Homo sapiens: one gene and its partners. The protein of the gene in region 1 interacts with the protein of each later gene in a pairwise test. Each region holds a gene or a part of one and is shown in the gene's direction. Other genes may lie near its edges.

The links.
Region 2: the proteins of CEP57L1 (region 1) and YES1 interact in binary tests that used the Homo sapiens proteins (3 or more experiments, as listed by UniProt).
Region 3: the proteins of CEP57L1 (region 1) and SNAPC3 interact in binary tests that used the Homo sapiens proteins (3 or more experiments, as listed by UniProt).
Region 4: the proteins of CEP57L1 (region 1) and KLC4 interact in binary tests that used the Homo sapiens proteins (3 or more experiments, as listed by UniProt).

Annotation. Positions count from the first base shown.
Region 1 is NC_000006.12:109,139,765-109,148,101, forward strand, and holds part of CEP57L1 (centrosomal protein CEP57L1), read left to right. Parts: intron 1-656; exon of another isoform or gene 657-911; intron 912-5,454; 5' UTR 5,455-5,457; coding exon 5,458-5,617; intron 5,618-6,993; coding exon 6,994-7,173; intron 7,174-8,337. UniProt on the Homo sapiens protein: Centrosomal protein which may be required for microtubule attachment to centrosomes.
Region 2 is NC_000018.10:720,664-726,155, reverse strand, and holds the end of YES1 (tyrosine-protein kinase Yes), read left to right. Parts: intron 1-1,523; coding exon 1,524-1,732; 3' UTR 1,733-4,568; downstream 4,569-5,492. UniProt on the Homo sapiens protein: Non-receptor protein tyrosine kinase that is involved in the regulation of cell growth and survival, apoptosis, cell-cell adhesion, cytoskeleton remodeling, and differentiation.
Region 3 is NC_000009.12:15,425,195-15,433,531, forward strand, and holds part of SNAPC3 (snRNA-activating protein complex subunit 3), read left to right. Parts: intron 1-8,337.
Region 4 is NC_000006.12:43,061,782-43,070,118, forward strand, and holds part of KLC4 (kinesin light chain 4), read left to right. Parts: intron 1-1,135; coding exon 1,136-1,366; intron 1,367-3,838; coding exon 3,839-3,920; intron 3,921-4,524; coding exon 4,525-4,744; intron 4,745-5,214; coding exon 5,215-5,302; coding exon of another isoform or gene 5,303-5,371; exon of another isoform or gene 5,372-5,616; intron 5,617-8,337.

The DNA of each region.
Region 1 (8,337 bases):
GACGTGAGCCACCATGCCCAGCCTGCCTGGCTAATTTTTGTATATTTAAGAGAGAAGGGGTTTCACGATGTTGGCCAGGCTGGTCTCGAACTCTTGACCTCAAATGATCCACCTTCCTCACCCTCCCAAAGTGCTGGGATTATAGGCATGAACCACCATGCCCAGGCTGGAATTTTCCATTAATATTTTCTGAAAAATGTTTTTCTGAAAGTCAGAAAGATAGTAGTAAGTGGCAGATTCAGGATTTGAATTGAGGTCCAGCTGCAAAGGCTTTACTTTTGAATCTGGATATAACTGCTTTTCATTGATTATTACTAAGATTTATTTATTTATGTATTTATTTATTGAGATGGAGTCTCACTCTGTCACCCAGGCTGGAGTGCAGTGACTTGATCTCGGCTCACTGCAACCTCCGCCTTCCGGGTTCAAGCGATTCTCCTCCCTCAGCCTCCTGAGTAGCTGGGATTACAAGCACTTGCCACTTGTCATTTTTCTATTATGACGTTAGTAGTTTTCTTTTGACTTACAAAAGCCCTTTACATATTAACATTAACCCTTTGTTCTTCATTGCACTTAATTACTTCTGTTTGTCTTTTGTCATTCAATTTTGTTTATAATTTTTATATGTTGTATTAATTTTTTTTTTTTTTTTTTAGACAGAGTCTTTCTCTGTCACCCAGGCTGGAGTACAGTGGCACGATCTCGGCTCCCTGCAACGTCCGCCTCCCGAGTTCAAGTGATTCTCCTGCCTCAGCCACCCGAGTAGCTGGGTCTACAGGTGTGCGCCACCATGCCTGGCTAATTTTTGTATTTTTAAGAGAGACGGGGTTTCACCATGCTGGCCAGGCTGGTCTCGAACTCCTGACCTCGTGATCCGCCTGCCTCAGCCCCTCAAAGTGCTAGGATTAGAGGTGAGCCACCGCGCCCGGCCTTATATGTTGTATTAATTTTAACAGAGCTTTTGTATCTTTTCCTTTATTTTTCTGTTACTTTTAAACATAGAATATCTTACCTATTCTAAGGTTATTTAATATTCACTGATTTCTTAAAATAATTTTTAGAGTTTTTTATTTATTTATTTATTTAGATGGATTCTCGCTCTGTTGCCCAGGCTGGAGTGCAGCGGTGCGATCTCGGCTCACTGCAAGCTCCGCCTCCCGGGTTGACGCCATTCTCCTGCCTCAGCCTCCTGAGTAGCTGGGACTACGGGCGCCCACCACCACACCCGGCTAATTTTTTGTGTTTTTAGTAGAGATGAGGTTTCACCATGTTGGCCAAGATGGTCTCGATCTCCTGACCTCGTAATCCGCCCGCCTCGGCCTCCCAAAGTGCTGGGATTACAGACATGAGCCACCGCGCCCAGCTGCGTTTTCTTTATTTGACTCTGTAGCTATCTGAAATTTGTATTGATGTATGGGGCAAGATGAAGCCTTAAATGGATTTTTTCCCCATTTTTTTCTTTTGTTTTTGAGACACAGTCTCACATTGTTGCCTGTGCTAGTGTGTAGTGGCGCAATCTCGGCTCACTGCAGCCTCCACCTCCCAGGTTCAAGTGATTCTTCTGCCTCAGCCTCCCAAGTAGCTAGGATTACAGGCATCCACCACCACGCCTGGCTAATTTTTTGTATTTTTAGTAGTGACAGGGTTTCACTGTTGGCCAGGTTGGTCTCGAACTCCTGACCTCATGATCCGCCCACCTCTCCCTCCCAAAGTGTTTCCCCAATTTTTCTAACATCATTTATTGGATGATCAACAAATGAATAGCTGAATCCCATTGAAGTATTTATGTTACATTCGTGTATTTACTAGTTTCTATTGACCAGTTTTTATTGTCACATCTTAACATTTTGGTGATTTTATATTATAAATAATACATTATATAATTATTATGGGATATCTATAAGTAAGTTCCACCACCACAAATTATCTTATTCAGTTATAATAAGATAATAATAAGATATAATAAGTTATAGTACTTCCTAAAGTACTATACATTAAAAAATAAAAGAGTTAGTCCAGCCTTACTGTGTTTGCTCTTAAGGTAAGTTAGCATAGATGCATACATAAAGAAAAAAACAGATCAAAGAAACTGAGCTGTTGATCCTTCTTCAGTTTCTCTAAGGAAAAATCCAAACTTGGAAGAAGTAGCAGTTACAGCAAACAGAGATTCCTTTATTTCAAAAGTCTTCTATAGTATCTCTGACTGCCCCCTAATGTCGTCTCCCTAGCAGTCCTATGGAATAAGTGTTTTCCTCTATAAAAAGTAAAAATGCTTTGCAGTAAAGTGTTTGTGTCTAGAGCATTCTTTTTAGGGGGATAGTTTTTTTATGCAATGGGTTCTTAGTTGCAGCCAATTGGGGTATCTTAATTTTATAAACCATAAAAACAGTGAGTAATTTCCCTGGTTGTTCACAAGCTGTCAAGAATGGTTTCAGGAAAACCAACCCAAATGCCCATCAATGATAGACTAGATAAAGAAAATGTGGTACATATATTCCATGGAATACTATGCAGCCATAAAAAGGAATGAGATCATGTCCTTGGCAGAGACATGGATGGAGCTGGAAGCCATCATCCTTGGCAACCTAACACAGGAACAGAAAACCAAACACTGCATGTTCTCACTCATAAGTGGGAGTTGAACATTGAGAACACCTGGACACAGAGAGGGGAACAACATACACCAGGGCCTGTGGGTGGTAAGGGGAGGGAACTTAGAGGACGAGTCAATAGGTGCAGCAAACTAATATGGCACATGTATACCTATGTAACAAACCTGCACGTTCTGCACATGTATTCCATTTTTTGTTTGTTTGTTGTTAGAATAAATAAAGAAAAAATAAATAAAAATTTTAAGAAAAAAAAAAAAGGTACAACTTGAGTTTCTCAGGCTTGATACAAATGAGGTTCACATTTTATAGCCTTTTGCCCTTACTTGAAGACACCTATAAAATGTTCCATAAGAATTCCTGAGGTCTTTTCAGTTACCAACAGCTAGCTAAGTCTGGTATCAGAAATACCGGAATCCTAGAGATTGTGATTTAGGTACTTCTCTGTATTTTCAGAAATTTTTCCCTAGAAATATTTCTCATATGTGCCCATGAATGTATCCCTTCCATCTGTGCTCTCTCTGTTTCTCTGTTGCTCTCTCGCTTTCTCACTCTTGTTCACTGTCTCTCTTGCTCTCTCTCTCTCTCTCTCTCTCTCTCTCTCTCTCTCTCTCTCTCTCTCTCTCTCTCTCACTGAATACTACTAACTGATGCACCAGAAAGGGGCCAAAACTGTGTTAGCAATCTGACTCCCCCTCCATTGTCATGTAACATCTTACACAAAGCAGGGAAGCTAATGCCTTGATATTTTATAGAGATATTGGTGAAACATTTCTCAGTTTTTATTTAAACTCTCTCTCTTTTTAGAACCCACATATGAGTCCATGGCACTAGGTCAGAGATAAATTAGAATGACCACCATCATAGTCTACTCAGAATCACTCCTCCTTTCCTTAGTCATTTAAGGCTTTTATTTTGGATCAAGCCTTTTGTAGTTACTTCACCTTCTTTCAGAGTGAGTTTTTCTCCCAGGATGCTTCAGTGCTTTATATAAATAAGCTTCCAGTAGGCTTATGCACTTGTTTACAACACAGGACCAGATTATAAAGGTTAAGCTGAGATCCCATTACAATGAGAATCTCTGAGCTCTGTGTCACAACATAACTTGTCCTCTCATCTCTTTACTGTTTTCTTTCTTTTTCTTCATCTTGTTTTTATCCTATCAGTGGATTATTCTGCTTGTGCCCACTTTAATATGTGTCTACACATTTAATTTAAATAAACTGTAGTCTACTTTTTAACTTACTGGCAATCTTCTAACTAGTCATTATTTCATATACATTAAAAACCTCAAATTTGGACCAGTTTTTTAACTGGTACAAAATCCGGTTTGTGAAATAATATTATACTTAGGTCAGAGGAAGCAGAGACCTCCCAAGGACTTCAGTGTGTAGTGACAAATAGCAAAATTTCATTCTTTATGTCATTGGAGAAACCCACCCGGAGCTGAAAACTAAGTCAGATTTCTTGAGTAGCTCCAGTATTCTTGGGATAGCTTTAACAACTTACCTCTCTCTGAAGATGTACAACCATCTTCAGGATTTACGTACTTTAGGGCCTTACCTCCACTTTATAGTGAGCCAGCTGTGACTAATGTTGATCTCTTGTTTTTTGAGGGAACAACAACTTAGATAGATGCGGTATCCCATGGGGAGCAGGCAGTGTCTGAGATAGCTGGTACTAATCACAATAGCAAAATATGGTTACCTTGCAAGAACAAAAAGCATCAAGTATCTTAGCAAACCTTAGGCTTTATAGCCTCTAATTTAGACCAATCAGAATGTTCTAGGAGATTGCCAATCATGGCAATGGCTAAAGTAGAAAATTCTAGGAAGTGAAGTGTGCCTTCTGCCCTTCCAGAAAATACTATCCTGGGAAGTGCCTGCCTTTGCCTTGTGAATTGAGGAGGTGGTGAAATCATGGAAAATGTACAACTCTCAAAAATCAAAATAGGCTAATGTTATAGTGTAATTCTTGGATTTCCATTTTGAAGCAAGCTTTCTTGCTTAAAATTCTTCCAGTGAGTTATTTTTTTGTAAGCAGTTATCACCTTATGTGATTATGAATTAATTTAATTAACATTGACTGGAATCTATTAAAAAATAGAATACATTTCTAAAATATTTAAATTGCAGAAAGGAAAATAAAATTATTTGGAAATTTTAGACCAAAAATTACCTGCTTAAATGGTTAAAAGGGCTCTCTTACCAAAACAAAAACAACAACAAAATAAAAACCAGACTAACAAAACTAAGTAGTCTAGATTCTTCAGATTTGGAAACTTTCTAATCTAGATGATTAAAATGCTAATACATTAAGCAGAGGTGTGTCTTATTCAAAGGTTAAATTCCGATATTTCATATATCCAAAATTACCCTTGAAAATCCCTTAGGAAGCCATACATTAGAATTCAACAATCAGTATTAGAGAATCAGTGTATATTGTTGGTTTGTGTTTAAAAGCTCAGTTATCTTTTAGAATATGTACTTTCTCTTTAAATCCTAGAGTCACACTGCTTATAGAGAAGTGCTCAGACTATGATAGGTATATGGGATTTATGGGTAACTGAGAAACCAGTAAATTCAAATCACTCATGTGATGCTTACTCCAGGGTATATGATTATTGAAAATCAGGCAGAATTGTCAGTACTGCTTACACAAGAAATAGTAACTTTTCTTTCTTTTATTGCCAAGCCTATTAGAGTTGAATTTATAATTAAGTTCATAAAGATACAACTCCACAGTATATGATTATGTTTTTAAAGTTTCACCTGAATTTTTGTATAATGCATTTACCCTTAAAATAGGAAAGCATGATACTATATCATTCCTTTATTCTCTACAGATAATGGATTCTGAATTAATGCATAGTATAGTAGGAAGCTATCATAAACCTCCAGAAAGAGTATTTGTTCCCTCATTCACCCAGAATGAACCATCTCAGAATTGCCATCCTGCAAACTTAGAAGTTACCTCTCCTAAGATACTTCATAGCCCAAATAGCCAAGGTAATGCTGATATAAAATTTGAAGAATGGTAAAAACATGCTATAAAAAACTTTTCATATTTATGTGGAATACAATATGATTGCATATTTAATCTTAACAAAACTCCTAACTTTGATTCTGTTGCTAAAAGTTTCTATGAACTTAGACAAATTACTTGACATTTTTTATTTTGGCTTCTTCAGCCATAAAATGAAGATTAATACAACCAGCTGGACACATATCACAGAGTTATCATAAAAACATCATTTGAAAACAGGAAAATACTCTTTGAAGAATAAAAGGTCAGATTTGGAATACTAAACTAGATGATTAGAATGTTAGTGAATTAAATGGAATTGCATCTTATTCAAGAATTAGATTCAGAAATTACATATATCCAAAATTATTCTTGAAAATATTTTAGGAAGCCAGTATATCAGAGTAACTACAAAATACTAGTATTTTAACGTTTAAAATAGAAATGTAGGAGGATCTTAAAATTGAATTAGGAAAACATTTTATTACTCCAGGCATATTTTAAGCTGTGCAAATTCTTTTCTGAGATGCTGATATCACCTACTTTTAAAATCTTCTATAATAATGGTTGCTGTTAATAAATAAACTAGTTTTGTGGAATAAACTATAAGAAATAATAATGCAAATCAATGTGCCAGCTACAGATATCATGTAAAGAGGAATAAATATAATTTATTTATCTCATTTATAAAAACAAAATGGTAATCTCTAGCAAGCATCTTTCTAATTTGATATAAACTATATGACAGTTAAAACTCTGAACTTATCTGAAGCATGAAGATATTAATATAGTTGAATATAAGTCACAGTAGTATAGAATACTATTATCTTTCAGGTCTGACATCAGGTAAACCATTAGGTTATAATTATCCTGGTTCTTAATACTGCATCATGGACAAAGAAACAGTAAATATGTGTGATTTGACTAAAACGGAATACCTCAAGAACTGAGAAAAAAAGCCTATAACTTTAAACCTAAATTGCCATGTTAATTAGTAGAAATTATATTTTAATGTTCTTATTCATATTTATACTCTTATGCTCCCCAGACTGTACATTGTCTTTAAGTCCTTTCATTTGTAAATATTTTATTAAATTAAAATTGTGGTTATTACCTTTCTCAGTCTTAGAAACCACTAAATACAATAATAGATATAGTGTTTTTACAAGATATATTAGAGAGAAAATGTGCGCCTCTTCAAAGTGTTAGTCATTATTTTTCATTTTTTGAAGAATATGCATTACTTGTACATTTTTCTGGCTCAGTAACAAAAATATACTGCTTATTTTTCTTATGTTACTTTGATTGTAAGTGTTCAGAAACTTTCACTTAAAATATCAACAAAATTTTTTTTCAACAGCTCTTATTTTAGCCTTAAAAACTCTTCAGGAAAAAATTCATCGTTTAGAGCTGGAGAGAACACAAGCTGAAGATAACCTGAACATTCTTTCCAGAGAAGCAGCACAGTATAAGAAGGCCTTAGAGAATGAAACAAATGAGAGAAATCTGGCACACCAGGAGCTGATAAAGCAGAAAAAAGGTAAGAAATGCAGTAGTTCTCAGAAACCGGGGGTTACTGGAGTTTACAGTTCAAAAATAATAAACCTAGTCTAAGCCGATGTACTCAGATATCTTTATTCTTATATATATTCAAACTTCATGACTTTGTTCTCAGACCTTTTGATATTTGTGAGAAAAAGATACAGTTTTGAACTTACCTCTATCATATCTTACTTATCATAATTCATAAATTCTAGAAATTAAAGGAAAAATTAAGATTTTAGACAAGTTGTGTTTAAAAATTAGAATATTTTCAGAATAGCCAACAAACTCCAATTTAACCCGTAATTGAATATTTATTTTTTATTTTATTTATTTGTATTTGCAGTTAACACTAAACTTTAGAATTTGAAATACAGAACAACACTAGTAATTAAACAATGTAAAACCAATAAAAATGAATACAAAAGAATTTTATTTAATGAGAGGAAAGCAAGGTTAATTAGAAGACATAGGCAAATGGGGGAGGCTTCTGTGGAAATTATGAAAAATTTTAGAAATTTAGAACATAAGTCTTTTAAGTAATTTCACTTCAAAACTTAAGACTTTCTTTTTCCTTTTTACACTACACTCATCCTCATAAACAAGGCTCAAGTTTGTGTTTCAACTTAGAAGTAGAATGAACAAATGGGGAGAAAAATATTTCTGAGGTAATTGGACAAAAGTAGAAGAAAGGGGTGAGGAAAGTAAAGAGTTAAAGGATTAGAAATAGGTTGCTTTCTGCTGTGGAATTAACTGTTCTGCCAGCAGTCAAGAACAGGGGAAAATGAGAGTGGTAGATGCATATACTTGAGTTTCCTGAAAGAGAAGAAATATATTGATAGGTAAGAAACTTTCAGCCTCTGTTTTTCCAGATGATGTTATTTCCATCAACAACCAGGATATTTATCATCCCACAAGTTACTGACATCCTCCTCTTTCAGAAGTGTGCCCTCTGAATTTTTAGGAGGAGACAATATTAAACCAGTTCTGTGTAATTAATGAGCTGTTTACAAATGTATTTTCATAACTCTGGGAGAGTCAATACTCAGAGATAAAGGAGGCCTTGAACTTTTAGCTCTTGATGAATTCACATAGTACATTTCTTGTGATAACCAAATCTCTGATCTATATGATAATCAGGTAATTGACTGGTTATTATTTT
Region 2 (5,492 bases), on another chromosome or scaffold:
CCGCACCCGGCCTTTGAGTGAAGTTTTGAATGAAAGCTTATTGGTAATTAGAAGTTATTTTCATAGGTTCCGGCTTATTTGGATTGCTTAATCCTAACAGTCAATTAAAATAATAAGCATAAAATAAAAGAACACAGAATGGAAAAGAAGTTCAATTATAGTAAGCCCTCACTGAATATTAATTCCCTTACTCCTTTTCTCCTTCACCCAACAACTTCTAGTTGTATTTCCACTGTTAGTAAAATGTACTGGATTTCACTTCCCCACCCCGCGAGATGGAGTCTCGCTCTGTCACCCAGGCTGGAGTGCTATGGCGCAATCTCGGCTCACTGCAACCTCCGCCTCCCGTTCAAGTGATTCTCCCACCTCAGCTTCCCAAGTAGCTGGGATTACAGGCACCTGCCATCATGCCTGGCTCATTTTTGTAGTTTGTAGAGTCGTGGTTTCACCATGTTGGCAAGGCTGGTCTTGAACTCCTGACCTCAGATGATCACCCGCCTTGGCCTCCCAAAGCGCCAGGATTACAGACGAGAGCCACTGTGCCCGGCCAGATTTCACTTATGAAGATGACAGTACCTAGTTAGATGAAAAGCTCAGAAAACTTCCTTTTAAGTATTGAGTTTCAAAGTAATGTCATGTAGAGTTTTTTTTAATAGTTTAAAAAATGTATTTTGAGAAATCACTTATTCCTCAAAAAAATAACTAAAAATCTAAATAGTAATGATTTAACCCCATTACATTTTCTTTAGAGAATCATAGACTATTTTAAATATCATTCCTGATTGGTTGATAAAGTTTCCAAGAGATACAAGGGATGGCCTGACTTGCAGGCAGGGAAGGAAGGTGATGCGGGAGATAGGACGTGAGGTGAGGTTGCTGGCTTAGTGAGACACTATCAGGAAGAATTTGGAAAAGGAGGCATTTTGCTGTCCTGTGATAAGATGGGGTGAACTGCTGATCAGGGGGTTGAGGAAGGGGGGATTACAAAGGAATACAAGAAAGGAACTATGTGTAATATCTTGAAGAAAGTCAAACAGGTAATATTAGATAAGGAAACTTTCACAGAAGTAATTCAATATAAAGTTATGTAGTTGGTATATTTGGCAAAACCAAGACTAGAACTTTCTTCTGAATTCCTGTTTTAAAGTTCTTTCAGACAGGATCTTGCCACCATTCCTCAGTAACCCAAGTTTGGTCATTGTTAAATGTTAATATTAGAAAGTACCAGTACCTCATAGTAGCACCCTAAATTCTTATTAATCAAATGGGGTTGGCTTTTGAAGACATTAGTATTAAAAATAAGATATAAGATGGAATGAAAAATTAGACATGTTAAAACATAGATTAGCATTTTCTAAGCTCTTCTTGATATTCTCATGTTTAAAATTTATTTTGTTGCTTTGTTAAAAGAATTGTTTCACTAAATAATATACTTTGAATGAGTTAGTGGCTAGGGGGTTTGTTATGTTTTCCTAGTGGTAGTTAGGACCATTGTTCTTTAATGTTTTAATCTTGTGTATTAGGTATGGTGAACCGTGAAGTATTAGAACAAGTGGAGCGAGGATACAGGATGCCGTGCCCTCAGGGCTGTCCAGAATCCCTCCATGAATTGATGAATCTGTGTTGGAAGAAGGACCCTGATGAAAGACCAACATTTGAATATATTCAGTCCTTCTTGGAAGACTACTTCACTGCTACAGAGCCACAGTACCAGCCAGGAGAAAATTTATAATTCAAGTAGCCTATTTTATATGCACAAATCTGCCAAAATATAAAGAACTTGTGTAGATTTTCTACAGGAATCAAAAGAAGAAAATCTTCTTTACTCTGCATGTTTTTAATGGTAAACTGGAATCCCAGATATGGTTGCACAAAACCACTTTTTTTTCCCCAAGTATTAAACTCTAATGTACCAATGATGAATTTATCAGCGTATTTCAGGGTCCAAACAAAATAGAGCTAAGATACTGATGACAGTGTGGGTGACAGCATGGTAATGAAGGACAGTGAGGCTCCTGCTTATTTATAAATCATTTCCTTTCTTTTTTTCCCCAAAGTCAGAATTGCTCAAAGAAAATTATTTATTGTTACAGATAAAACTTGAGAGATAAAAAGCTATACCATAATAAAATCTAAAATTAAGGAATATCATGGGACCAAATAATTCCATTCCAGTTTTTTAAAGTTTCTTGCATTTATTATTCTCAAAAGTTTTTTCTAAGTTAAACAGTCAGTATGCAATCTTAATATATGCTTTCTTTTGCATGGACATGGGCCAGGTTTTTCAAAAGGAATATAAACAGGATCTCAAACTTGATTAAATGTTAGACCACAGAAGTGGAATTTGAAAGTATAATGCAGTACATTAATATTCATGTTCATGGAACTGAAAGAATAAGAACTTTTTCACTTCAGTCCTTTTCTGAAGAGTTTGACTTAGAATAATGAAGGTAACTAGAAAGTGAGTTAATCTTGTATGAGGTTGCATTGATTTTTTAAGGCAATATATAATTGAAACTACTGTCCAATCAAAGGGGAAATGTTTTGATCTTTAGATAGCATGCAAAGTAAGACCCAGCATTTTAAAAGCCCTTTTTAAAAACTAGACTTCGTACTGTGAGTATTGCTTATATGTCCTTATGGGGATGGGTGCCACAAATAGAAAATATGACCAGATCAGGGACTTGAATGCACTTTTGCTCATGGTGAATATAGATGAACAGAGAGGAAAATGTATTTAAAAGAAATACGAGAAAAGAAAGTGAAAGTTTTACAAGTTAGAGGGATGGAAGGTAATGTTTAATGTTGATGTCATGGAGTGACAGAATGGCTTTGCTGGCACTCAGAGCTCCTCACTTAGCTATATTCTGAGACTTTGAAGAGTTATAAAGTATAACTATAAAACTAATTTTTCTTACACACTAAATGGGTATTTGTTCAAAATAATGAAGTTATGGCTTCACATTCATTGCAGTGGGATATGGTTTTTATGTAAAACATTTTTAGAACTCCAGTTTTCAAATCATGTTTGAATCTACATTCACTTTTTTTTGTTTTCTTTTTTGAGACGGAGTCTCGCTCTGTCGCCCAGGCTGGAGTGCAGTGGCGCGATCTCGGCTCACTGCAAGCTCTGCCTCCCAGGTTCACACCATTCTCCTGCCTCAGCCTCCCGAGTAGCTGGGACTACAGGTGCCCACCACCACGCCTGGCTAGTTTTTTGTATTTTTAGTAGAGACGCAGTTTCACCGTGTTAGCCAGGATAGTCTCGATCTCCTGACCTTGTGATCTGCCCGCCTCGGCCTCCCAAAGTGCTGGGATTACAGGCGTGAGCCACCGCGCCCAGCCTACATTCACTTCTAAAGTCTATGTAATGGTGGTCATTTTTTCCCTTTTAGAATACATTAAATGGTTGATTTGGGGAGGAAAACTTATTCTGAATATTAACGGTGGTGAAAAGGGGACAGTTTTTACCCTAAAGTGCAAAAGTGAAACATACAAAATAAGACTAATTTTTAAGAGTAACTCAGTAATTTCAAAATACAGATTTGAATAGCAGCATTAGTGGTTTGAGTGTCTAGCAAAGGAAAAATTGATGAATAAAATGAAGGTCTGGTGTATATGTTTTAAAATACTCTCATATAGTCACACTTTAAATTAAGCCTTATATTAGGCCCCTCTATTTTCAGGATATAATTCTTAACTATCATTATTTACCTGATTTTAATCATCAGATTCGAAATTCTGTGCCATGGCATATATGTTCAAATTCAAACCATTTTTAAAATGTGAAGATGGACTTCATGCAAGTTGGCAGTGGTTCTGGTACTAAAAATTGTGGTTGTTTTTTCTGTTTACGTAACCTGCTTAGTATTGACACTCTCTACCAAGAGGGTCTTCCTAAGAAGAGTGCTGTCATTATTTCCTCTTATCAACAACTTGTGACATGAGATTTTTTAAGGGCTTTATGTGAACTATGATATTGTAATTTTTCTAAGCATATTCAAAAGGGTGACAAAATTACGTTTATGTACTAAATCTAATCAGGAAAGTAAGGCAGGAAAAGTTGATGGTATTCATTAGGTTTTAACTGAATGGAGCAGTTCCTTATATAATAACAATTGTATAGTAGGGATAAAACACTAACTTAATGTGTATTCATTTTAAATTGTTCTGTATTTTTAAATTGCCAAGAAAAACAACTTTGTAAATTTGGAGATATTTTCCAACAGCTTTTCGTCTTCAGTGTCTTAATGTGGAAGTTAACCCTTACCAAAAAAGGAAGTTGGCAAAAACAGCCTTCTAGCACACTTTTTTAAATGAATAATGGTAGCCTAAACTTAATATTTTTATAAAGTATTGTAATATTGTTTTGTGGATAATTGAAATAAAAAGTTCTCATTGAATGCACCTATTAATCGTTTTAGTTGCTATTCATATTCTCATTCGTTTTTTAAAAACTGATATATTCTGAATTTATTCTTCCATTGAGAAAAAAATGTTCAGTTACTTGTAACTACTGAGCAGAATTTAATCAATCCTTTATTAAATTCAGAACATTATTGAACTCATTCTTTGTGGTCAATTTTCTTTTTTTTTTGTTTTGTTTTGTTTTTTTTTTGAGACGGAGTCTCGCTCTGTCGCCCAGGCTGGAGTGCAGTGGCGCGATCTTGGCTCACTGCAAGCTCCGCCTCCCGGGGTCACGCCATTCTCCTGCCTCGGCCACCCGAGTAGCTGGGACTACAGGCGCCTGCTACCACGCCCGGCTAATTTTTTGTATTTTTTAGTAGAGACGGGGTTTCACCATGTTAGCCAGGATGGTCTCGATCTCCTGACCTCGTGATCCGTCCGCTTCGGCCTCCCAAAGTGCTGGGATTACAGGCGTGAGCCACCGCGCCCGGCCTGTGGTCAATTTTCTATGTCAAGTGAGTGACATTATTTTTACAAGTATTTTCTTCTTCTTAAAATTATACCAGCAAATACAGTTAATGCAGAAACCTAAGTAATTTGAGTGTAGCTATTCACAATCTATGTGAAGAATATAAAATAGAATGACCAGTTTTATTATAAATTAAGGGGCTTAATTTTCTAAAAAAGAAAAAAAATGAGCCTTATCTCTGTGTTTTATAATTATTATATAGGATAATGAAAATAAAATTGTCTAATACTAAATTTTGAATGGTCATTCAAAAGCATTTATTTTCAATAAGTTAATTACAAAATTATTAGCTTTTTCTCTGATTTCTAAAACACTTCATTTAGTAAACATTTATTTTTGTAGTATAGCAATAGTTCCTCAATTTAAGAATGTTTTTCTAGTTTCCTGTTTGCCTTTTAATTTTCCATATAATTTCTGACATGTAAGTTGTACATTTGTAGATTGTCAAATCTGTTCATTCCTTTTTTATGTTTAGAAGTCTTCATCCACCCCAAGATTAATATTCATCTATCTATATTATAGTTTATGCTTCTGTGTGTGTGTGACAGGATCTTGC
Region 3 (8,337 bases), on another chromosome or scaffold:
AACATACCACTTCTATGTTATGTTATGTTACGTTATTTTTTTGAGATGCAGTCTCACTCTGTTGCCCAGGCTGGAGTGCAGTGGCGTGATCTCTGCTCACTGCAACTTCTGCCTCCGGGTTCAAGCGATTCTCCTGCCTCAGCCTCCGGAGTAGCTGGGATTACCGGTGCCTGCACCCTCGGCTGCCTAACTTTTTTGCATTTTTTGTAGAGACGGGTTTCACCATGTTGGCCAGGCTGGTTTCAACTCCTGACCTCATGTGATCTGCCCAACTCGTTCTCCCAAAGTGCTAGGATTACATGCGTGAGCCGCCACACCTTGCCCATACCACTTTTTTAAAAGCCCAAAGATTCCTTTCCAGATTACCACAACCCATCTTTCCCTTAGGAAACAGATGCATTTATACTGCCTTAAACTCTTAACATTTCTAAAGTCCTTGAAGGCTCAATGAGAGTCCAAACTCCCATCTGTGTATTGTTCTCAAGCCTACTATACTGCCTTGCTCCAATTGGTGCTCTGTAACTATTGTTGATTGATTAGTTGTATTTGTCTAAAATGCACATCTGATTGTCACTCCCTTGCCTAAAACCTTTTGATGTCCCTTAGGCTGAAGTCCTGAGTCTGTAGTGGCTCACAAAGGCCTCTAAGGAGTGGACCTTGCTGTTTTCATTTTGTTTTGTTTTTGAGATGGAATTTCACTCTTGTTGCCCAGGCCTGAGTGCAATGGTGCGATCCCGGCTCACGGCAACCTCCGCCTCCTAGGTTCAAGTGATTCTCCTGCCTCAGCCTCCCAAGTAGCTGGGATTACAGGCATGTGCCACCACGCTTAATTTTGTATTTTTAGTAGGGACGGAGTTTCTCCATGTTGGTCAGGCTCCATGTTGGCCAACCTCTCGTGATCCACCCACCTCGGCCTCCCAAAGTGTTGGGATTACAGATATGAGCCACCGCACCTGGCCCGACCTTGCTGATTTTTTTTAAGCTTTCTCTCTGCAGTGTTCCAGCCACACTGCACTGTGTTTCAGTTCCTCGAATATGCTCTCTCACTCCAGGCCTTTGCCCAGAACAGTCATTCTTGCTTATCTCCTGACCTTGTTGACTTCTACTCATCCTGCAAGTCTTAGCTAAAGGACTACGGACTCCATTTAGGTCATCTTGTATGCTCATGTAGCACCCTATGCTTCCCTATTGAAATGCTCATCACATCTGTAATATACGTGTTTAATTTTCTGTCTTCTTAGCTACACTTGAAAGTTCCTTAAGTTACATCTGCCACACTCACTGCTATATTACCAATTCCTAGAACTGTGGTGCATAGTAGGGAGCCAACAAATATTTGTAGAATGAGTGGAATAAATGAAACTTTCAGAAGACTCAGGAAGTGATTTTTAGAGATAGACTGAAAAAAGAACGTTGATGATAATCATATTAAAGCAGACTCTTTTTTGCTATAGTTAATAATGTATTCATTGATTTATAGTAATTTTGTTAAGCCATGTTAAATAGTAATTTTAAGACTGCTTAAACATTATTTCCCTTGACTACTTTGCACTACTAGGTCAACTAGATCTCTTTGGTTTCTTCTAGTCCCTCCAAACAGGATTTGTGGGTAGAATTATATATAATCTAATGTAAATCAGTACGGTATTCTTCAACTGGGGTTATTTTGATATACTGTGAAGCTAGTGTATTTAATACATGACCATTGTTAACCTTAATGGTCCTGCCAAAAAAAAATTAGACTTGTGGCAAAAGCCTAAATTTGTATCTCTATGCTTTATCTTTCTCTGAACCTTCCTTTTCCTCACCAATAATTTCACATTATTATATTATAAAAATAAAACATAAGTACATCATTTCTTTATTATGACATAAAATAAATTTCTGGTACTTTTTCTTTCCCACATCAAATGAAAGAGCTCGTTTTATGCATATAAGGGACCAAAGGTAGTTGGTAGATATTGATTCTTCCTTGATACATGTTGCTCCCTTAATCTATAGCAAACTACATAGCTTTGGCAGTTTTGACATTTTTTTTGACTACTTAGTTGGTTTTAATTCCTAGGAATAGGAGAGATAATTGTTAATACATGGGTGCTGCTAAAACTTACTTGTCATTCCAAAAGCTTCAGCAACATCACTTATTTATTTGTTTATTTATTTATTTTTAGACAGAGTCTCACTCACTCTGTTGCCCAGGTTAGAGTGCAGTGGCTCAATCTCTCCTCACTGCAACTTCTGCCTCCTGGGCTCAAGTGATTCTTCTGCCTCAGCCTCCCAAGTAGCTGGGATTACTGGCGTGTGCCACCATGCCTGGCTAATTTTTTATATTTTTAGTAGAGATGGGGTTTCACCATTTTGACCAGGCTAGTCTCAAACTCCTGACCTCAAGTGATCTGCCGGCCTTGCCCCAAAGGGCTGGTATTACAGGCGTGAGCCACGACGCCCAGCCCTTCAGCAACATTACTTTTAATACAATAGAAATTTTAGATTATTCTGCCCATCCCCCTCACTTTTGTGACCAAGAAAGCACTGTTTACAGGTCCAGGATGTACTGTTTAAAGGTTAACAAAAGGAACTTACAGAGTCCTGCAAAAACAAAAAACAAAAGAACCATGAAATTGGAGAACTCAAAACTCCTATTCCACCAAACCAACCACAAATGATTTTTTAAAAAAACTTAAACAGGGTGGAGTGCTTGAGGTCAGGAGTTCAACAGCAGCTTGGCCAATATGGTGAAACCCCACCTCTACTAAAAATACAAACATTAGCTGGGCGTGGTGGCACCCGCCTGTAGTCCCAGCTACTCGGGAGGCTGAGGCAAGAGAATCACTTGAACCCGGGAGGTGGAGGTTGCAGTGAGCTGAGATCGCGCCATTGCACTCCAGCCTGGGTGACACAGCGCAACTCTGTCTCCAAAAAAAAAAAAAAAAAAAAAACTGTCAAACAGCTCTCATATATCTGAAGTTGGCTAGAATGACAGAAAAGAGCACCATCAAACTGGGAATCTTGTAAACTATCACTGTGCCCCAGATGTTACAAAAATGAGCAAGAGGAAATAAAATCTAACGAGAGCTTGTTGCAGATAATCAGGAAATAACTGTTTATACAGATCAACTTTGGAGACTACCTGTTCCACTCGGAAACAGGTAAAGCCTGTTAAGTCTAGCCGGTCGTGGTGGCGGGCGCCTGTAGTCCCAGCTACTTGGGAGGCTGAGGCAGGAGAATGGCGTGAACCTGGGAGGCGGAGCTTGCAGTGAGCCGAGATCACGCCACTGCACTCCAGCCTGGGCGACACAGCGAGACTCTGTCTCAAAAAAAAAAAAAAAGAGAAAGCCTATAAGTCTGTACTCCAAACAGAATTGAATATACTCAAATAAGCATTTGAGGGTATAAAAATGTTTACCTTGGCTTAGAATTTTTAAAACTATTAATAAGAATGGAAATGATGACTAAAGGAGAAATGAAAAAAGAGTTGATGAAACAAAGGGAAGAAATGGAAGAAAAAGACAATTACCTCATAAGTGAATAAATTGTAAGATACCTAAGGGAAAATAGACTGAAATGAAAGCAAGAGGCAATGAAGAAAGGCATAAAAACAACGAAGAGAATTGAAAATGACAAAGAAAAAAGTAAGATGAATCCGAGAAAGTAGGGAATGGTAGGTAGATAGGCAAAGACATAATATTCATATTATCAGAGTCCCTGAAGAAGAAAAAGAAATGGAACATAATTCATGTTTAAAAACATAATCCAGCAAAAGTTTCCAGAAATTGAAAAAAAAACTAAATCTAGAAAGGGTTCCCTAGGTACCTGGAAAAATTAACCCAGACTTATTGACTTTTGGGATATATTTTAGTACAACTATTAGATTTCAGAGATAAAGATGAAATCATCAAGTCTTCTGTGCAAAAAGAACATATAACTTACAAAGGCAAACTTACAAAAAGCATCACATGTTGAAAAACTGACATACAAAGCAAGGCAACATAGAGCAGTGTTTTTTTTTAAAGCTCAATGAAGGTGTGAATTGAAGGATTTTATATCTAACTGAATGTTCTCAAATGTCAAGGTTATAGAAAAAGAGTTTTCGACATAACGAAAACCTGGGTAATTTCTGTACCTGCTGGCCATTTCTGAGGAATATACAAGAGAATGAGCTTTATCCAACCAATTGATGACTGGAAAATTTTCAGCAAAAGGACTAATACAGAGAGGATGAGGGTGGAAGATTTGTGTAACCGTTGGGTATTGCAACAAAGTACAGTATTGCAACTAAAATGATGGAAGGAGAAAAATGGATAATGTGTGGGCAATAGATGGGTTTTAAAGACTACTGCAGAGGAAAAAAAACCTGACACACCAGATAGTAAAGTGTTAAATAAGAAAATGGGTAACTCTAGGATTTAAAAAATGTGAGTAGAAAGGTAACCAGTAGAACAATAATAGAAATATCAACTCCCCCTCAATTTCTAAAAATTAAATGGAAAAGAAGGGTATGCATTTCATAATGAAAAACAGCTATTACAACAAAATACAAATAATTAGAAAATATTGTGATAGAGTTGAGACCAAATACATTAGTCTTAAGCAACCTATTAAAAAAGGATTTTCAATTTGGCTTGTAAAACAAAAATCTTGGGATGACAAGAGACACATCTAAAATAAAATGATTCCGAAAAGCTAAAAATAAAGGGTTAGACCAAAGTATACCAAGTAAATGGAAACAAAAATCAAGCAGGAGTAGTGATGCTGATATCAGACAAATAGTATTCAAGCCCCAAAGTATTACATGTGATAAAGGACACTTTTTAATTTATATCTTATGGAGGTACGTATACATAAAATTTGCTCCCTGCTAATGAGAACTGTATGACATGTTCACAAAAATTGATTATGTATTAGGTCACAAAGGAAACATCAATGACATTCATAACATAGAATATTACTAACAGGTTGCGTGCAGTGGCTCATGCCTGTACTCTCAACACTTGGGGAGGCCAAGATGGAAGGATTGCTTGAGCCCTCGAGTTTGAGAACAGCCTCGGCAAGATAGGGAGAACCTGTATCTACAAAAAATAAAAACAATTAGCCAGCTGTGGTGGCACACACCTGTGCTCCCAGCTACTCAGGAAGCCAGGGTGGAAGGATCACTTGAGCCTAGGAGATTGAGGCTGAAGTGAGCCGTGATTTTACCACTCCACTCCAGCCTGGGCAACAGAAAAAGACCCTGTCAAAAAAACAAAAAGAAAATAAATTTCCAGCTCAGAAAACAAAAAAAGAACAACAAAGTAAGTGAAAAGAAAATACTAGAAAGGAAATAATAAAGATAACAGAAATTAATGAGGAAAATAATACTTTTTGTCCGAGCAATCCCATTTCTAGTAATTTATACCAAAGGTACCCCTCCAACAATATGAAAATACATGTGTTCAATACTTACTAGTGATGTTTAGCTTGTTTCTGTCTGCTTGTTATTCCTTGCAGTATTGTTTGTAATTGCAAAATATTTGAAATACCTTAAATATACAGACGTAGGAGAGGAGAGTGTTGAATACGCTATGGGAAATCCACACGGTAATATTTTGCAGCTAGAATAAAGGATGAGGAAGGATTAATTCAGAGTAATTTCCAGTACATTCTATTAAGTGAAAAAAGCAAAGTCCCAAAGTATATGCCACCTTTCATGTAAGAAAGGTGTGCCAGGTGTAGTTTATTGGCTCTCATCTTCAAATTTACCTCTTTTTCCTGCTCTGTAAAAATGGACCTTGGCCTTTTAAATACTTTTCTTTTGCCAACTAGCACATCCTTAAGCTTTGTCAGTGAAGGGCAATGGAGAGACTTCTCAGGAGTCTCAAAGGTTTTGCTTCCTGATCTGATGTGCTGGCTCAGCAGGATCCTGCAGTGCACACAGCTTCCCCAGTGCCCAGCTCCTGCAATACACTGCAGTCTGAAGCACCCCGCGCCCAGCAGCTTTCCTGCCAACCCCATTTCCCTCCACAGCTCCCCTGAACAGGTTTTCCTAGTGCCCTTGAGGGTGGATTTCCAGCAAGTTCCACTGATGCAGTACCATAGCAACTTCTTTCTCCAGCTCGTCTGGATCTCTGTCCAGGAAGAAAAAAGGACTTCCCTGCGCTCTTTCTCAGCCCTAGGGGTAGGGTGCTCCTTCTGTTTGCTATTATTCTATACTTCAGTGTTCCCTTTTACTGCTTCCTTGCCAATCCCTCATTATTCCAATCCTCTGTTAAAGTTATTGAATCCTTAACCTTTGTTCAAATTGCTGTTCTTTTTTTCTTCCTAATTGAACTCAGATTGATACAGGAGATAACAGAGTATACACAAATATCTGTTTATTTGAACAAAGGAAATGGAAAGGACAAACCAAAACTATAGAGACTGATTGCCTGCAGGGGTGGGTGGGAAAGGGGTGGAAAGAAGGGAGGGAATGGGAACAGGTTAGTAGGAACAAAGAGGGAGTGACACTTTTGACTCTTAGGATCATAGTAATGTGTCACATATTTTTCACACACCCCAAATGTAATCAGACAATTAAAACCAACTAGGATGTAGGGGGAACCCAAAACTGAATTCAAAAACTAAAAAATAAGGCTAGTTGTATTACGGATGTGTAATATAACACCACTGAAAAGGGTGGGGAAGAAAGAACTAAAGTCTGTATTAAAGCCTGTCTTTTTTTTTTTTTTTTTTTTTTTGAGCACTTCATGAATTTGCATATCATCCATGCACAGGGGCCGTGCTAATCTTAAATATATTGTTCCGATTTTTAAATAATAAAATGCTACCAAAAGCGTATCTTGATATAATGTAAAGGTGAAGACAGAACTGTTTATAATTTAGTGTTTCTCACAGGGGTATAGGTTAGCAATTCTGTAACTATTTTATGTATTTACTAGAATTGAACAAATCATAGGTTGCCAACAGTGAAAGCTGGATTTCTCACTTGTGGAGAAAGACGTTATAAACAAGGAAATGTTAAAGGCTAAAATGAATCCTGTGGTTTTAGTTTGGGATCAGAAGTATCAGTATAAACTCATAGTTTTAAATGTATGACAGTAAAATACAGAAATACAGATATTTATACATGTATAGGTTAGTATACATACATATATTTCCTGCCTATCTCAGCTGAGAGGCCTAGAAGCAGTGACTCCAGTAACAATGAGAACGCCTAGAACCCAGATACTGGTCTCTAAACACCTTTTTCCAGTAAAGGAACTAGGGCTCTTACAAGTGGTTGATTCCGGGGACGAGACAAGAAAAATATAGGATGGGCCTTGAGCATCTTGTGGTGCCGGAAAGTAAGGGAATATTAAAAAAATAAAAAATAATTTTAAAAAGGAGAGGACTTGCTGAAAGAACGGGAGCTCCTAATGATAAAGCTGTACCAATTTGAACAACAAAATAGTGATAGTATTAGATTTTAACCCCAGAATAAAACAATTATCTGTAGGTTCATACTAATAGAAATGATGAAATAAACAGATGGGAGGAAAGAGGCAGGTCTTCCTCAAAATATAATTCCAATGAATAAATGTAGAAGATCCAATGAATAAATGTAGAAGAAAGTAAAGACAGAATTGCTATTAGGCATACAGCACAGTAATAAATGTTGCAGACATAATCTATCAGTGAATGCTAAAATTCATGGGTGAAGTTTGAGGAGAAACAAGATTTGCATAGTGTCAAAGTATCTCCCCCAAAATATTTACCAAGTTCATAGAAAATAAGGTGTCTTTCTGGTGCAGGAACCTGGCAGACAGAAACAAGCTAAACATCACTAGTAAGATGTCATATTAATATCATGAACATCTTGATATGATATAATGAGAAGGGCATCATTGTAGTATTCTTACCAAAATGCTAAATTTATTCCTATCATGAGGAACTAGCGGTCAAACCCAAATTGAAGGACATTCTATAAAATAACTGATTAGAGCTCTTTGAAATTGTCAAGATCGTGAAAGATAAGGAGAGACTGAAGTATTTTAACAAACTCAAGGAGACTAAGGAAAAATAACAGATGCCATGTGGGATCCTGGATAGGAATCTGGAACAGAAAAAAAAAAAAACGAGTAAATTAAAAATTGTGTGAAATTTTAAAAAGGCGTATAGCTAATAATATTGTGTAAGAATTTATTTCCTGTTCTTAATTGTCTCATGATCAAGTAAGATGTTGACATAAGGGAAGCTGAACAAGAGATAGAAGGGAACTTTTTCCTGCTTTTGCTACTTAAAATTAGTTCAAAATAAAAAAACTTGAATGTTAAATATGTTTTTGAAGCCCGAATAACAAATGTTGAACTTTGATTTTTTTTT
Region 4 (8,337 bases), about 66 Mb from region 1:
GTAAAAATCTTTGCCATCTTGGAGGTTACCTTCTAGCTTGGGAAGACAGACAATACATAAATAAATAATGATTCGGTATGCCAGAGTGATAGTTGCTAAGCATAAAAGGATCAAAATAAAGCAGGGAAGGAAACTAGGGACTGTGGGGAGAGGGTATAATTTTAGATAGGGTGGTCAGAAAAGGCCACCCTTTTTTGAAAAGGTGACATTTTTGGCAAAGACGTGAAGTTGAGGGGAATGAGTCATGCCATAAACAGGGGAAGGGCATCCTAAGCACAGAGAGCAGCAAGTGCAGAGGCTCTGAATGGAAGTCTGCCTGGTGAGGTCAGTGAACAGCAAGGGGCCAGTATGGCTGCAGTAGAGTGAATGAGGAGAAGCAAGGTAGAAAATTAAGTCTGAGGGGTAATGGGGTTGGAGGGGAGGGAGATGGATCAAGTGGAACTTGTAGGCCACCCCGAGGACTTTGATTTTGCCCTTTCTTTGAGACGGAGTCTCGCAGTGTTGCCCAGGCTGGATGTAGTGGCACAATCCTGGCTCTCTGCAACCTCTGCCTGCCAGGTTCAAGCGATTCTCCTGCCTCAGCCTCCCGAGTAGCTGGGACTACAGGCGCATGCCACCACGCCCGGCTAATTTTTTGTATTTTTAGTAGAGATGGGGTTTCACCATGTTGGCCAGGCTGGTCTTGAATTCCCGACCTCTTGATCCACCCGCCTTGGCCTCCCAAAGTGCTGGGATTATAGGCGTGAGCCACTGTGCCTGGCCCTGATTTTACTTTGAGCGAGATGGAAACTATTGGAATGTTTTTAGAAGAGGAGTGATGTGGTCTAACTTGGCATCATCAGGTTGTTGGGTTACAAATAGACAATAGGGGAACAAGGGCAGAAACGAGGCCAGTGAGGAAGTTATTGTAATAATTTGGGTAGGAATTGATAGTGGCTTGGTCCAGGGTGACAGCAGTGGAGGTAGTGGGAAATTGGATTCAGGGTATGTTTTGAAGGTAGCACCACTGCTACACCCCCACCTTCTGGCTCCTCTGTGCCCCTGCCAGTCTTGCCACGTCCCAGTAGGCTCCCCTTCCACCTGTTCCTGAATACTCCCACCCAGAATCTGGAGCTCAGGGGATGTGCCCACCTAGGTGATGCTGGCTCTAGCCAGCCACCTGAGCACAGTGGAGTCGGAGAAACAGAAGCTGCGGGCTCAGGTGCGGCGGCTATGCCAGGAGAACCAGTGGCTGCGGGATGAGCTGGCTGGCACCCAGCAGCGGCTACAGCGCAGTGAACAGGCTGTGGCTCAGCTGGAGGAGGAAAAGAAGCACCTGGAGTTCCTGGGGCAGCTGCGGCAGTATGATGAGGATGGACATACCTCGGTGAGTGTGCACAGGCGAGACTGGCTGAGGGGTGGGCAGCCGGGAGTTACCACAGACATGGGGGCAATTGCCCCATCATCCTCAGGGTCCATCAGCTCTACCCAACCTGCTCTCACCTGAAAGAATTCCTTTTTCAGCCCTGACACCAACTCCAGGTGACAGCAAGGGGAAAAACAATATTCAGGTAATTCAGTCAACATTTAATGAGATGCCTACTGTGTACCAGGCATTGTGCACTGCACTGGTGAATGGGGCACACAGAGTTCCTGCTCTCACAATTACAAGCTTGTGAGGGAGATAGATAAGCACCTGGACAATTCCAATCCAGAATTCTACGTGGTACAATTAGGGAAAGCATAACCCAGTTGAGCATGACCCTCCTAAAATTTGCTTTCAAAATGTGTGAATTTTTTTTTTTTTTTTGAGACGGAGTTTCACACTTGTTGCCTAGGCTGGAGTGCAATGGTGCAATCTCAGGTCACAGCAACCTCCGCCTCCCGGGTTCAAGCAATTCTCCTGCCTCAGCCTCTTGAGTAGCTAGGATTGCAGGCACCTGCCACCACGCCTGGCTAATTTTTGTATTTTTACTAGAGACGGGGTTTCACCATGTTGGCCAGGCTGGTTTTGAACTCCTGACCTCAGGTGGTCTGCCCGCCTGGGCCTCCCAAAGTGCTGGGATTACAGGTGTGAGCTACCATGCCCGGTCCAAAATGTGTGAAATTTAACCCTCGCTCAACAGAATGCAGTGATGCCATCTCAGCTCACTGCAGCCTCCGCCTCTGGCTTTCAAACAATTCTTGGGCCTCAGCCACCCAAGTAGCTGGGATTACAGGTGTCTGCCACCACACCCGGCTAATGTTTGTATTTTTAGTAGAGATGGAGCTTTGCCATGTTGACCAGGCTGGTCTCAAACTCCTAGCCTCAAGTGATCTGCCTGCCCTCGGCCTCCCAAAATGCTGGGATTACAGGCGTGAGCCACCACGCCTGGCTGAGAGTGTGTGTTTTCTTGAGATGTATCTGTAGGGAACAAGTCTTATCCAGGAGAACATATATGTGACAAAATACAAAGCAGCAAGTGCTCAGTGCTGGATGAGTGGTTCAGTCAGTGTGGGAAGAATTTCACAGAGAAATGTCTCTGAGGGCTGGAATGGTCTAAGAAGAATTCATAGAGGAAGCAGGGAGCCTGGGCAACATAGTGAGACCCTGTCTCCACAAAAAATTAAAAAATTAGCCTGATGTGGTCGTGTGCACCTATAGCCTCAGCTACTCTGGAGGCTGAGGTGGGAGGATCGCTTGAGCCCAGGAGGTGGAAGCTGCAGTGAGCTGTGATTATGCCACTGCATTCTAGCCTGGGCTGTTGCCAGACTAGAGACTCTGTCTCAAAAAACAAACAAAAAAATAGAGGAAGCAGGATACAGGGATGGGTAGGATATAGGTTGGATTTCCCATTTGAGTGGGTTAGGAGTTGAGATGGATTTTGAAAGTTCATGATGAGGAAGAGGGAGCAGCTTTTTAGACTGGAGTGCAGGGTGTCATTGATAAGGCTTACAGCCTGGAAAAGCTGGTCTGTCCCAGGGAAAGTGAGTAGATGAATTGCATAGGACACATTGGTGAAGCTGGGTAGGAGGGTTGGTGTTTGGATGAGGCTGCAGTTCCTGATGGGGAAAAGCAGATTTTCCTAGTGCGGAATAGGTTAGACAGTGAGGGAGGGTTACGTAGTAAGTCCAGAATGAGCTGTGCAGATGATGGGCACCAGGCTGAGCTAGACACTTTCTGGGTACATGTCAATAAGATCGGCCACACTCCCTTCCCTCAGGAGAGACAGGACAGACATACAATCAACGTAAACACACAGAGATCAGCATAGGGCCATAATTACAAGAGTTAAGGCAAGATTGAGGGTGGTTAGAAAGGAAACTTTTTTTTTTCTTTTTTTTTTGTTTTGAGACAGAGTTTCGCTCTTGTTGCCCAGGCTGGAGTGCAATGGCATGATCTCGGCTCACCGCAACCTCTGCCTCCCAGGTTCAAGCGATTCTCCTGCCTCAGCCTCATGAGTAGCTGGGATTATAGGCATGCGCCACCACGCCCGGCTAATTTTGTATTTCTAGTAGAGATGGGGTTTCTCCACGTTGGTCAGGATGGTCTTGAACTCCTGACCTCAGGTGATCTGCCCACCTCGGCCTCCCAAAGTGCTGGGATTACAGGCGTTAGCCACCACACCCGGCCAGGAAGGAAACTTTCTGTATGAGAAGGAGGGGAAGTCTTGAGATTTTGTCCAAAGCATCTCTGGCTGTTACAAACAAGAGGCCTGAGCTTGGCTGGGCCACTTGCTAGCCTTTCCAGGGGCAGAGACAGGAACAACAGTCTTCTCCTAGGTCCCATCTGTCTGTGATTTCATGGCTTAGAGGGGTCACTGAGAAGGCTACTAGGTAGGGATATCTTGGCCCTTATATGTTGCTTCTTCCCTTCCAGGAGGAGAAAGAAGGCGATGCCACCAAGGATTCCCTGGATGACCTCTTTCCTAATGAGGAGGAAGAGGACCCCAGCAATGGCTGTGAGTCTGCCTCTGGAATGGGAGGGTGAAAAGGGGCAGCAGGAGGCTGGCCCTAGCTGTGGCCCACCCTGTACACAGGACAGTCACCATCTAGAAATAGGTTCTCCACTTTCTCTGGAGACAGGGCAGGGGCTGGGCTAGTACTTCGATTTCCTCAGCCTCCCCATTGAACGAACATGTATTAAGCACTGAATATGTGCCAGGTACTGTGCTAGGCACTAGGAGTACTGAGATGGAAATGGCATAGGTCTTACCAGTAAGGAGTTCACAGTCTAGTGGGAGAATAAACCTGAGACAGGGAGACCATGAGCCCCCCAAGGGAAAGAACCAGGTCTTTCTTACCTTTGTACTCCTGGAACATCCCTTGGTTCATACTTATTAAATAAATGTTTGTTGAATGCATGAATTACTGGGTGAACAACTGAGGTTGTGATGGGCATAGGTCAAGGGAGTGGATAAAAGAATAGCACTTGAGGCAGGTCTAATATTGAGAGTCCAGGTTGGGGTGGGCACAAGTATGGAACAAGACATGCAATGGGGAGTGGAAGGGCAGACAGCAAAGGGGAGAGGAAGAGTCCTTTGTTTATGTTCTGTGATGGTTTAGTGTCCCGTGGTCAAGGTGCTACAGCAGCTCAGCAGGGTGGATATGAGATCCCAGCAAGGTTGCGGACGTTGCACAACCTGGTGATCCAGTACGCAGCCCAAGGTCGCTATGAGGTGGCCGTGCCACTCTGTAAGCAGGCACTAGAGGACCTGGAGCGCACATCAGGCCGTGGCCACCCTGATGTCGCCACCATGCTCAACATCCTTGCTTTGGTGTATCGGTGAGGACTTCCCTCCTCCAGTGCCCAGATCTTCCCCCACATTCCCACCTTGGTCCTCCTTTGGCTTTCATTTTTCCTCTTTACAGGGTACCTCTCCTCCCTGTTGGGCCTCCCAGATACACCCCAACAGGGTGCTTCTTTATGTGCCAGAACTCTCACTTTTCCCATACCTAAGCATTTGCTCATCCCTTGGGATCCTTGTTCCTCTAATCTCTCTTCTGGGGAGTGCTCTCTCCCTCTCTTCCCCCTGCCCCCTTGCTTCTTATAACTTGTGGCCTCCTCTTGGGATGGCAGTGCCCTGCATTCTGGTATGAGTATGTCAGTGAAGCCCCCTTACTGTCCACGCCAGGCTTCCTGTCTCCTCATGGAGGTCTCCAATCCTTAAATGTACTCAGTCCTTCCAAAGGGAAGGAGGGAAGGAGAAGGCTTGCGGGTTCAGGGTAACTCCTGTCACTTTTGTCTTCTTCCAGTGACCAGAATAAGTATAAGGAAGCTGCCCACCTGCTGAATGATGCCCTTAGCATCCGGGAGAGCACCTTGGGACCTGACCATCCTGCTGTCAGTATTCCTTGCCCTCCCCACCCCACGCCCCGCACCCCCCACCATTGCTGTTTTGGCCTCTCTTAGCTCATCCATCTGCTGCCCTCAGTCCACTCACTAAGGGTGCTGAGGAAGGAGGCATAAGAAGTCCTTTCTTCCAGGCACTGTCCAGTGATCCTAATGATTCTCAATTCTCTGAGACTCAGTGACTCCTTTTTATAACAAATATTTTGCTTGAATTTAATTAATAGATAAGTCATAGGTAAATCCACATATGATTTCTACAAAACTTAATATGCTACTCTAATAAATATAAAAGAAAAACAAGAAAAGTAATTTGTAAGGACAATATATACAATGTAATATAATAAGGTAAAAATACAAAACAACAGTAGTTGTATTGAGTACAACTTTGTTAAAAGAAATAGCAAAGTGGCCTGGGCACAGTGGCTCACGAGTGTAATCCCAGCACTAATCCCAGCACTTTGGGAGGCTGAGGAGGGTGGATCACGAGGTCAGGAGATCGAGACCATCCTGGCTAACATGGTGAAACCCCATCTCTACTAAAAAAAATACAAAAAATGCCGGGCGTGGTGGCGGGCGCCTGTAGTCCTAGCTACTCGGGAGGCTAAGGCAGGAGAATGGCGTGAACCCGGGAGGCGGAGCTTGCAGTGAGCTGAGATCGTGCCATTGCACTCCAGCCAGGGTGACAGAGCGAGACTCCGTCTCAAAAAAAAAAAAAAAAAATGAAAATATAGGTGGACAGGCCGGGCGCGGTGGCTCACGCCTGTAATCCCAGCACTTTGGGAGGCCGAGGCGGGCGGATCACGAGGTCAGGAGATCGAGACCATCCTGGCTAAAACGGTGAAACCCCGTCTCTACTAAAAATACAAAAAATTAGCCGGGCGTAGTGGCGGGCGCCTGTAGTCCCAGCTGCTTGGGAGGCTGAGGCAGGAGAATGGCGTGAACCCGGGAGGCGGAGCTTGCAGTGAGCCGAGATCCCGCCACTGCACTCCAGCCTGGGCGACAGAGCGAGACTCCGTCTCAAAAAAAAAAAAAAAAAAAAAAAAAAAAGAAAATATAGGTGGACACTTTATTAAAGTACAGTATTATAAGAAATCACAAGGGTCGGGCACAGTGGCTCATGCCTGTAATCCCAGCACTTTGGGAGGCCAAGGTGGGCAAATCACGAGGTCAGGAGTTCAAGACCATCCTGGCCAACATGGTGAAACCCCGTCTCTACTAAAAATACAAAAATTAGCCGGGCGTGGTGGGGGGCACTTGTAATCCCAGCTACTCAGGAGGCTGAGGCAGGAGAATCACTCGAAACCAGAAGGTGGAGGTTGCAGTGAGGTGAGATCGCGCCTCTACACTCCAGCCTGGGCAGCAAGAGCAAAACTCTGTCTCAAAAAAAAAGAAAATAAATGACAGACCAGATTTATTTGTGTATAAGAGGAAGAGACTGGGCTTGGTGGCTCACGCCTGTAATCCCACCACTTTGGGAGGCCAAGGCAGGTCGATCACCTGAGGTCAGGAGTTTGAGACCATCCTGGCCAACATGGTAAAACCCCGTCTCTACTAAAAAAAAAATATAAAATTAGCCAGGCATGGTGGCATATGCCTGTAATCCCAACTATTTGGAGACTGAGGCAGGAGAATCATTTGAATCCGGGGGTTGGTGGTTGCAGCGAGCCGAGATCGCACCACTGCACTCCAGCCTGGGCAACAGAGCAAGACTCTGTCTCAACAAAATAAGAAGCGGCCCAGCGCTGTGGCTCACTCCTGTAATTTCAGCACTTTGGGAGGCCGAGGTGGTCGGATCACCTGAGGTCAGGAGTTTGAGACCAGCCTGACCAACAAGGTGAAACCCTGTCTCTACTAATAATACAAAAATTAGCCAGTTGTGGTGGCATGCACCTGTAGTCCCAGGTACTCGGGAGGCTGAGACAGGAGAATTGCTTGAACCCAGGAGGCTGAGGTTGCAGTGAGCCAAGATCGCACCATTGCACTTCAACCTGGGTGATGGGGTGAGACTTCATCTTAAAATAAATAAATAAATAAATAAATATAAATAAAAGGAAAGAGAGAAACAACCTTAAGTAGAGATATCACGCCAAGGCAAATGATAGAGTTGTCAATGTACAGAAAATGAAAAATGAAAAGTTTGTTTGTTTTGTTTTGTTTTGTTTTGTTTTTTGAGATGGAGTTTCGCAGTGTCACCCAGCCTATAGTGCAGTGGTACAATCTGGGTTCACTGTAATCTCTGCCTCCCAGGCTCAAGTGATCCTCCTGCCTCAGCCTCCCAAGTAGCTGGGATTACAGGTACGTGCTACCACGCCAGGCTAATTTTTGTATTTTTAGTAGAGATGGGTTTTCACCATGTTGGTCAGGCTGGTCTTGAACTCCTGACCTCAAGTGATCCACCTACCTCAGCCTTCCAAACTGCTGGGATTACAGGTGTGAGCCACCACACCCAGCTGAAAAGTTATTTATTTTTTGTTGAGATAGAGTTTCACTCTTGTTGCCAGGCTAGAGTGCAACATGGCACGATCTTGGCTCACTACAACCTCCACCTCCCGGGTTCAAGCAATTCTCCTGCCTCAGCCTCCCGAGTAGCTGGGATTACAGACATGCCACTACGCCTGGCTAATTTTGTACTTTTAGTAGAGACGGGGTTTCTCCATGTTGGTCAGGCTGGTCTCGAACTCCTGACCTCAGGTGATCCGCCCACCTCGGCCTCCCAAAGTGCTGGGATTACAGGCGTGAGCCACTGCGTCCAGCCAAAAAGCTATTTTTGAATGTGATCTGTGTGAAAATAATTCCCTATGGTATGACATATGATAGGCAGGGATGATGTATCTCAGAAATCATACTCCTGTCTTGATATCCCATCAAATATCAATGTTTACATTTAGCGTTTGGATGTCTGGCAGGACATTAAAAAATTGGCAGAGCTGTCCCACACATGCAGAACATCTATAGCGTTCTTGCCTCCTCAAAGGTAATCTTCATGGTGACAACAACAACAACAAAAAAAAAAAAAAAAGAAAGAA